Homo sapiens: one gene and its partner. Changing the gene in region 1 together with any one later gene gives a genetic interaction. Each region holds a gene or a part of one and is shown on either strand. Other genes may lie near its edges.

Region 1 (3,500 bases):
GCATGAGACACTGCGCCCACGCCCGCCCCCCACCGCCCAGTCCTTTTTTGTTTTTGAGACTGAGTCTGGCTCTATCGCCCAGGCTGAAGTGCAGTGGCAAGATTTCGGCTCACTGCAAGCCTCCATGTCCTGGGTTCAAGCGATTCTCATGCCTCAGCCTCCGAAGTAGCTGGGATTACAGGGGTGCACCACCACGCTGGCTAATTTTTGTATTTTTAGTAGAGACAGGGTTTCACCATGTTGGCCAGGCTGGTCTGGAACTCCTTACCTCACGTGATCCGCCCACCTCAGCCTCCCAAAGTGTTGGGATTACAGGCTTGAGCCACCACGCCAAGCCCCCTTTTTTTTTTTTTTGGGGGTGGGGGACAGAGTCTCACTCTGTCATCAGGCTGGAGTATAGTGGCATGATCTCGGCTCACTGCAACCTCCGCCTCTCGGGTTCAAGTGATTCTCATTCCTCAGCCTCCCAAGTAGCTGGGATTATAGGCATGTGTCACCATGCCCAGATAATTTTTGTATTTTTTGTAGAGATGGGGTTTCACCATGTTGGTCAGGCTGGTCTTGAACTCCTGACCTCAAGTGATCCGCCCGACTTGGCATCCCAAAGTGCTGGGATTACGTGTGTGAGCCACCGCACCTGGCCTTTTTTTTTTTTTTTTCTTTTTTTAGAGACAGGGTCTCACTCTGTCACCCAGGCTGGACTTCAGTGGCACGATCTCTGCTTATCACAAACTCCAGCTCCTGGGCTCAAGTGATCCTCCCACCTCAGTCTCCTGAGTAGCTGAGACTACAGGCGTGAGCTACCATGCTTGGCTAATTTTTATATCTTTTCTTGGTAGAGATGAGGTCTCGCTATGTTGCCCAGGCTGGTCTTAAACTCCTGGGCTCAAGCAATCTTCCCGCCTTGGTCTCCCAAAGTACCAGGATTACAGGCGTGAGCCACCACACCTGGCTACAAGAAATATTTATCCAGGGCTCTGTATACCCTAGAAGTAGCCTTACTTTGAGGTGGCCATTAATATAATCCCATTTTACAGAGGAGGAAAACCAAGACATGGAGCATTTCAGAGATTTGCCCAAGTTACACACCTACGAAGTGGTCGGATCAAAATTCCAACTCATGCTGGTTTCTTCGGAGCTTCCACTTTTTTTTTTTTTGGAGATGGAGTCTCACTCTGTTGCTCAGGCTGGAGTACAGTGGCACAATCTCAGCTCACTGCAATCTCTGCCTCCTGGATTCAAGCGATTTTCCTGCCTCAGCCTCCTCAGTAACTGGGATTACAGGTGCCCACCACCACAGCTGGCTAATTTTTTTGTTTTTAGTAGAGACGGGGTTTCACCGTGTTGGCCAGGCTGGTCTCGGACTTCTGACCTCAGGTGATCCGCCTGCTTTGGCCTCCCAAAGTGCTGGGATTACAGGTGGGAACCACTGTGCTGGCCCAGAGCTGTCACTTGTTTTTTTCCACAACATTCTATTGTGATTGCTTATTTTTTCCTTTTTTAGTCTATTTGCCATTTTAGAAAATGATTTCATTTTAAAAAACAAGATGGGTGAGTTGGCTCGTGCGTATAATCTCAGTGCTTTGGGAGGCTGAGGCAGGAGAATCACATGAGCCCAGGAATTTGAGGTTACAGTGGCACCTCTGCACTCCACCATAGGTGACAGAGCAAGACCCTGTCTCTTAAAAAATAAACTCAGACATCCCATCTCTACTAAAAATACAAAAATTAGCCGGGTGTGGTTGTGCGTGCCTGTAGTCCCAGCTACTCAGGAGGCTGAGGCTGAGGCAGAAGAATCATTTGAACCCGGAGACAGAGGTTGCAGTGAGCCGAGATCACGCCACTGTATCCAGCCTGACGACAGAGTGAGACTCTGTCTCAAAAAAAAAAAAGAAACAAAAGAGGCCGGGCGCGTTGGCTCACGCCTGTAATCCCAGCACTTTGGGAGGCTGAGGCAGGCGGATCACGAGGTCAGGAGATCGAGACCATCCTAGCTAACATGGTGAAACCCCGTCTCTACTAAAAATACAAAAAATTAGCTGGATATGGTGGTGGGCACCTGTAGTCCCAGCTACTCGGAGGCTGAGGCAGGAGAATCGCATGAACCTGGATGGCAGAGCTTGCAGTGAGGCAAGATCGTGCCACTGCACTCCAGCCTGGGCGACAGAGCGAGACTCCATCTCAAAAAAAAAAAAAAAAGAAACAAACAGAAAACTCAGAGGCCAGGCGCGGTGGCTCAGGCCTGTAATCCCAGCACTTTGGGAGGCCGAGGCAGGCAGATCACCTGAGGTCAGGAGTTCAAGACCAGCCTGGTTAACACGGTGAAATCCCGTCTCTACTAAAAATACAAAAACAAAAATTAGCCGGGTGTGGTGGTGGGCGCCTGTAGTCCCAGCTACTCGGGAGGCTGAGGCAGGAGAATGGCGTGAACCCGGGAGGTGGAGCTTGCAGTGAGCCGAGATTGCACCCCTGCACTCCAGCCTGGGCGACAGAGCGAGACTCCATCTCAAAAAAAAAAAAAAAAAAAAAGCCAAGCCAGGTATGGTGATGCACACCTGTAATCCTCAGGAGGCTGAAGTAGGAGAATCATTTGAGCTCAAGAGTTTAAGACCAACGGCCGGACACGGTGGCTCATGCCTGTAATCCCAGCACTTTGGAAGGCAAGGGGGTGGGCCACTTGAGGTCAGGAGTTCCAGACCAACCTGGCCAACATGGTGAAACCCCGTCTCTACCATAAAAATATGAAAATTAGCTGTGCGTGGTGGCACACACCTGTAGTCCCAGCGACTCAGGAGGCTGAGGTGGGAAGATCGTTTGAGCCCAGGAGTTCAAGGCTACAGTGAGCTATGATTGTGCCACTGCACTACAGCCTAGGTGACAGAGCAAAACTGTGTCTCAAAAGCAAAAACAGGCCAGGTCCGGTGGCTCACGCCTGTAATCCTAGCACTTAGGGAGGCTGAGATGGGCAGATCACCTAAGGTCAAGAGTTCAAGACTGGCCAGGCGAGGTGGCTCACGCTTGTAATCCCAGCACTTTGGGAGGCCGAGGCGGGCGGATCACGAGGTCAGGAGATCAAGATCATCCTGGCTAACACAGTCACCCCGTCTCTACTAAAAATACAAAAAATATTAGCCAGGCACGGTGGTGGGCCCCTGTAGTCCCAGCTACTCGGGAGGCTGAGGCAGGAGAATGGCGTGAACCCGGGAGGTGGAGCTTGCAGTGAGCCGAGATAGCGCCACTGCAGTCCGGCCTGGGCAAAAGAGCGAGACTCCATCTCAAAAAAAAAAAAAAAAAAAAAAGAGTTTGAGACCAGCCTGGCCAACATGAAGAAATGCCATCTCTACTAAAAATACATAGTGAAACTCCGTCTCTACTAAAAATAAATACAAAAAAATGGCCGGGCGCGGTGGCTCACGCCTGTAATCCCAGCACTTTGGGAGGCTAAGGCGGGTGGATCACAAGGTCAGGAGATCGAGACCATCCTGGCTAACACGGTGAAA
Region 2 (4,161 bases), on another chromosome or scaffold:
CTTAGGGAGGACCTGGCCATCTCTAATCAAAGGGCAGAGGCCAGATGCTGGGGGGTGTGGAGGGAAGGGTATCAGAAACAGACTGGAGCAAGATGCTCAGGGGGTGCGCCCAGCCTGGTAGGCTCACCTCATGCTGGAACTGGTTGAGCCGTTGCTGCAGGCTGACCTTCTCCACCTCCAGCAGGGAGCCATCCTTGATTTCATACAGAGAAAAGCCATGCTCCTCTCCAAAGTCACTGATCAGTGGGTACTGCAGGTGGGGTGGAGCTTCAGGAGAGTGGATTCCCGGGTGCCCAGCCCAGGCCTCAGCCTGGCTGTGCCCCCAACCCACAACCTGCCTCAGACCTTTGACCCTCCTTCTCCTTGGCTAGTGGGATCCCAATTCCCATGGGTCTGTAGCCATCTCCCACCCACCGGATCTGTTTTAGATCCCAGATCCAGCCCTTCTGAAGCCAACAGGAGACAGTTCGCATCCGGAACAGCCACGTCTCTCATGGGAGACCCTCAAGTTCCCAAGAGTCTGCACAGTGACCCCTCTTTTGGATCCCTGGTATCTACCAGATTCCCAGTCCCCCTCCCCATCCCATACACTCTATCAGGCGCCCTCCTCTCCAAGTTCTGACCTTGATCTCGTAGACTTTGAGGCGGCGTCGGAGGGTGGCGTTCTCCCTCTCCAGGCCCCCCAGCCGTTCCTTGATGTCTCCGTAAGCAGTGATGAGGGCAAAGTGGGAGGCGGAGCACATGTCGCCCCCAAGCGAGGGGTCTCCGGGACTGTCCAGCCACACCTCACTAGGCCCCAGGGCCTCCTGCGTCAGGATGCTGATGTCGTCCTCGAACATGGACTCCATGGTGAGGGCCGGGCCGCGGCCCACACGGGGCCTCCTAGGAGAGCAGGAGCAACCGTGGACAGGGCCGTCTGTCTAGGGTTTGTCCCTGGTACCCCTCTCCCTGGCTCTGCACTCCCTGGGGCCGGCTAAGATGCAACCCAGAAACTTCCTGCCCCGAGCTCAGCAGGGACTCCCATGGCCCCTTCCCAGACTCCTCAGCCCCATCCTCTCTGCCGCCTTGGGGAAAAGGGGCTGGAACCAGGTGAAGACCCCGCTGCCAGGGTGTTGACAAGTAGGGACAAGTAAGCCAGGCCGGCAGCAGGGGCAGGCTCCTGCCAGAACCCAGGGAGACCTGTGGATGGGAGAGGGCTGCCTTCCCAGCCGGGCCCGGCCCATTCCTCCGCGCTTCTCCACCCCAGGCCTTACTTCCCCAAATACCTCGCCGCCAAGCTCCTCAGCCTGGGCCTCTGGCACCCCAGCTCCTCCCCAAGGAAGGCCCAGAGCTGCGCGAGGGTCGGCCCCTCCACAGTCGGCACGCCCTCGGCTGCACCCCCGCCCAACTTCCCCACTTCCTCCCGCAGGATCCCAGAGTTCAGGAAAAGGAAGCGCCTCCCCCGGGCGCACCGGGGCTGTGGCAGCGGTCCAGGACCCCTTGGCCCCTGACCTGGGACCCACAGGAAGTCCTTGGCTGAGTGTTACGGGGCGCAAACTGGGGAAGGGGACCCAGGTGGAAGGGGACGCGAACGAATTCCCAAGGCTGTCTCAGGGTGCCCGCGCACCGGGAAATGGGGAACCCTACGAGGGGGCAGGAATGACTCAGGCTCCCGAAAGCAGGAGTAGGCAGTGAGGGGGTGCGTGTGTACTTCTCTCGGGCCTGGTTATGAATGTGTGTCTGGGGTTGGCGTATGGGGGGAGTGTGCGTCTGTGAATGAGTGTAGGTGTGTCAGTCAATGAGTGCCTTCGGGGTCGCAGGGGCGTCGGGACGGAGTGGGGCAGCGACCAGGAGGCTGGTGTGTGCACGCGTGCGTGAGCGCGTGGGCAGGGTGGCACGTCCGGGCCGCGTGTCACGTGAGACGCGAGGGGACTGTCCGAGGTGTGTGCGCGCGCTGGAGCGTTATGTGCACCCCGGAGAGGGGGCTCGGCAGGGAGCTGTGAGTTCAGACAGCGGGGCCCCCAGGTCGGGCTGCAGGAGCTTGGGGTGCAAAGGGCTCCGGCGCAGGCTCCAATTCAATCCACCCCCCCCCCTCCGCCACCCACAGGCCCATCTAAGTGCCAGGGAAACGCGAGTGACTGGGTCTGAGTAAGGAGTGTGTGCGCGCGTTTGTAGGGCCGGCCCCACCTTTAACCCTCTCCTTCCCACGCCATCCCCTCCCCCCAGCTCCGCGCGCCAGCGCTTACCACACCCCCCCAGACCCCCGCCCGCCCCTCTGCGCCCACCCCGCTGGCGGGGCTCTGTCCCCGAGGCCGCACCACAAATGCCTCCTTCCTCCGCATTCCTCTCTGGGCCCAGCGCCCGGGTGAGCGCAATGGAAGGCGGCTGGGGAAGGGGTGAGTGCCTCTGTCGGCCCGGGCCCCTCCTGCGGCCCCTTTAAGAGCCGCCCTTTAAACCCCTTTCGCTCGGCCGACAGAAATTGTCGCCCCTCCCCTCTCGGGGGCCGAGACCACGCAGCCCCCTCCCCCACAACCGGCCGAGCCCTGGGCCCCCGGACACCCTCTCGGGGCCGGGGAAGGGGCTCCGGGAGTGGCGCGGCCTGAGGAACGGCGGCGGAGGGGGACGCGAGGGGATGAGGGCGGCCGACACCGGACCCCTTCCCTCCCAGCCATCCCGTGCGGCTGCCAGCCGCCCTCCTGCCGCCTCCTCCTGCCCACCCCGCGACCCCTGGGGCCCAGCCCGGGCGCCGCTCCCCTCCCCCAGCCCTAGCCCCAGCCGGGGACTCACAGCTGCTGCCGGTTCCTGCTTGTAATCGCAGCTTACCCCCTCCGCCTGCTCCCTCCCCAAACGGGCACCAGTGCCCCCACCCCCCTGGTACCGCGCTCTGCTCCTCGCCCTGTCGCCGCCGCCGGGTCTCTCCCCACCCCCCACCCCTCCCCCCAACCCCCTCCCTCCCGTCCGCCCCGCTCCTCCTCCGCCGCCGCCGCCTCCTCCGCCTCCTCCTCCCCGGCTGCTCCGGGTTTCTCCAGCTGGGAAGGCGCCCCGGACCCCGCCGCTGCCACCACCACGTGGCGAGAGGCGGCGGCCCCTACGGTGCGGCCCTTCCTGGCAGCGCGCCCGGAGCCCACCGGCTCCCTGCGGCGCCAGCGGCCCGCGCTGGCGCCCCCTCCCCGACGCCTCCCGGCGCAGTGTGGCGTGGTGGCGTGTGTTGGGGGCGTCTGCGGTCAGTGCAGGGGCCCGGCTGATGCTTTGGTTGTTTTGGTTGTTTAGTTATGGGCTGTATATTTGGGGAGGAAGTGGGGCTATTTATCTGGCTTTTTTTTTTTTTTTTTGGTCTTTGCGCTTTTGAGAAGGAAATCATTAGACCTGCTCTTCGTTGCTCTTGGTAAAAGGGGCATTGCTGCGATAAATACATTGAACATAGGGTACAGAGAGATTAAAGCTGTAACTTCTTTGGAAGTGAGAGTAAACTAAGGAGGTCAAAGATTCATTCATGAAGAAGGACAGCCATCTCCCTCCCCACACACCACTCCCCGGCCACCCTCAAGTACCCACAGGTCAGGGAAATGAAGAAACAACAGATGTCACCCTGTGCACAAAGATTATTTGAGCACCTGCCAAACTGCTGGGCAAGAGAAACAAGTTTTTTGCTACTTTCCTGCTGTGTGACCTTGGGCAAGTTACCTTAACCTTTCTAAGCTGGAGATCATGCCCCACCTAAGCACTCTCATGGAGGAAGAATGGGGATCAGAACTAAATACAGCAGCCTGCGAATGCTCAGGAAGTGTTAACGATGTCATTTTGAGTATTGCCTGGTGGATTAAATAATGTGGACAGAGGCATGGTCAGCCTAGCTGCAGGTAGAGAATGATCAGGGGAACCCTGGAGCACTCTGGCTGAAGAGCATCCTCTGTGGACAGGGAGGCAAAGCCCGGAAGCAGGGGATAAGCTGGGCGGGGGCTTTTGGCAGATTCAGCCTTAGCTGCGAAGACTGCTGGGAACCTGAGCCTACCTTTTTGGCTCCTGAGGTGGGATGGGGGTGGGAATCTCCGAGGGGGAGGATGGAAGGAAAAGGTTTCTTGCTCTCTCTGAGCTTTGAAAAGCAGCAGCTGCCATCTTTCCTCACTGCTGGGAGAAAATTGGACTGAGAGGTGAGCTTCTACCAGGAGAGCCAGCCAGAGC

Evidence for each region. A genetic interaction does not mean that the proteins touch.
Region 2: changes in KEAP1 (region 1) and TBKBP1 together harm fitness more than expected from each alone (negative genetic interaction), as found in Homo sapiens cells (one large-scale study listed by BioGRID).

What each region holds. Positions count from the first base shown.
Region 1 is NC_000019.10:10,493,357-10,496,856, reverse strand, and holds part of KEAP1 (kelch-like ECH-associated protein 1), read left to right. Parts: intron 1-3,500. UniProt on the Homo sapiens protein: Substrate-specific adapter of a BCR (BTB-CUL3-RBX1) E3 ubiquitin ligase complex that regulates the response to oxidative stress by targeting NFE2L2/NRF2 for ubiquitination.
Region 2 is NC_000017.11:47,692,800-47,696,960, reverse strand, and holds the start of TBKBP1 (TANK-binding kinase 1-binding protein 1), read right to left. Parts: upstream 2,801-4,161; 5' UTR 2,767-2,800; exon of another isoform or gene 2,298-2,766; intron 2,212-2,297; exon of another isoform or gene 883-2,211; 5' UTR 849-882; coding exon 624-848; intron 251-623; coding exon 128-250; intron 1-127.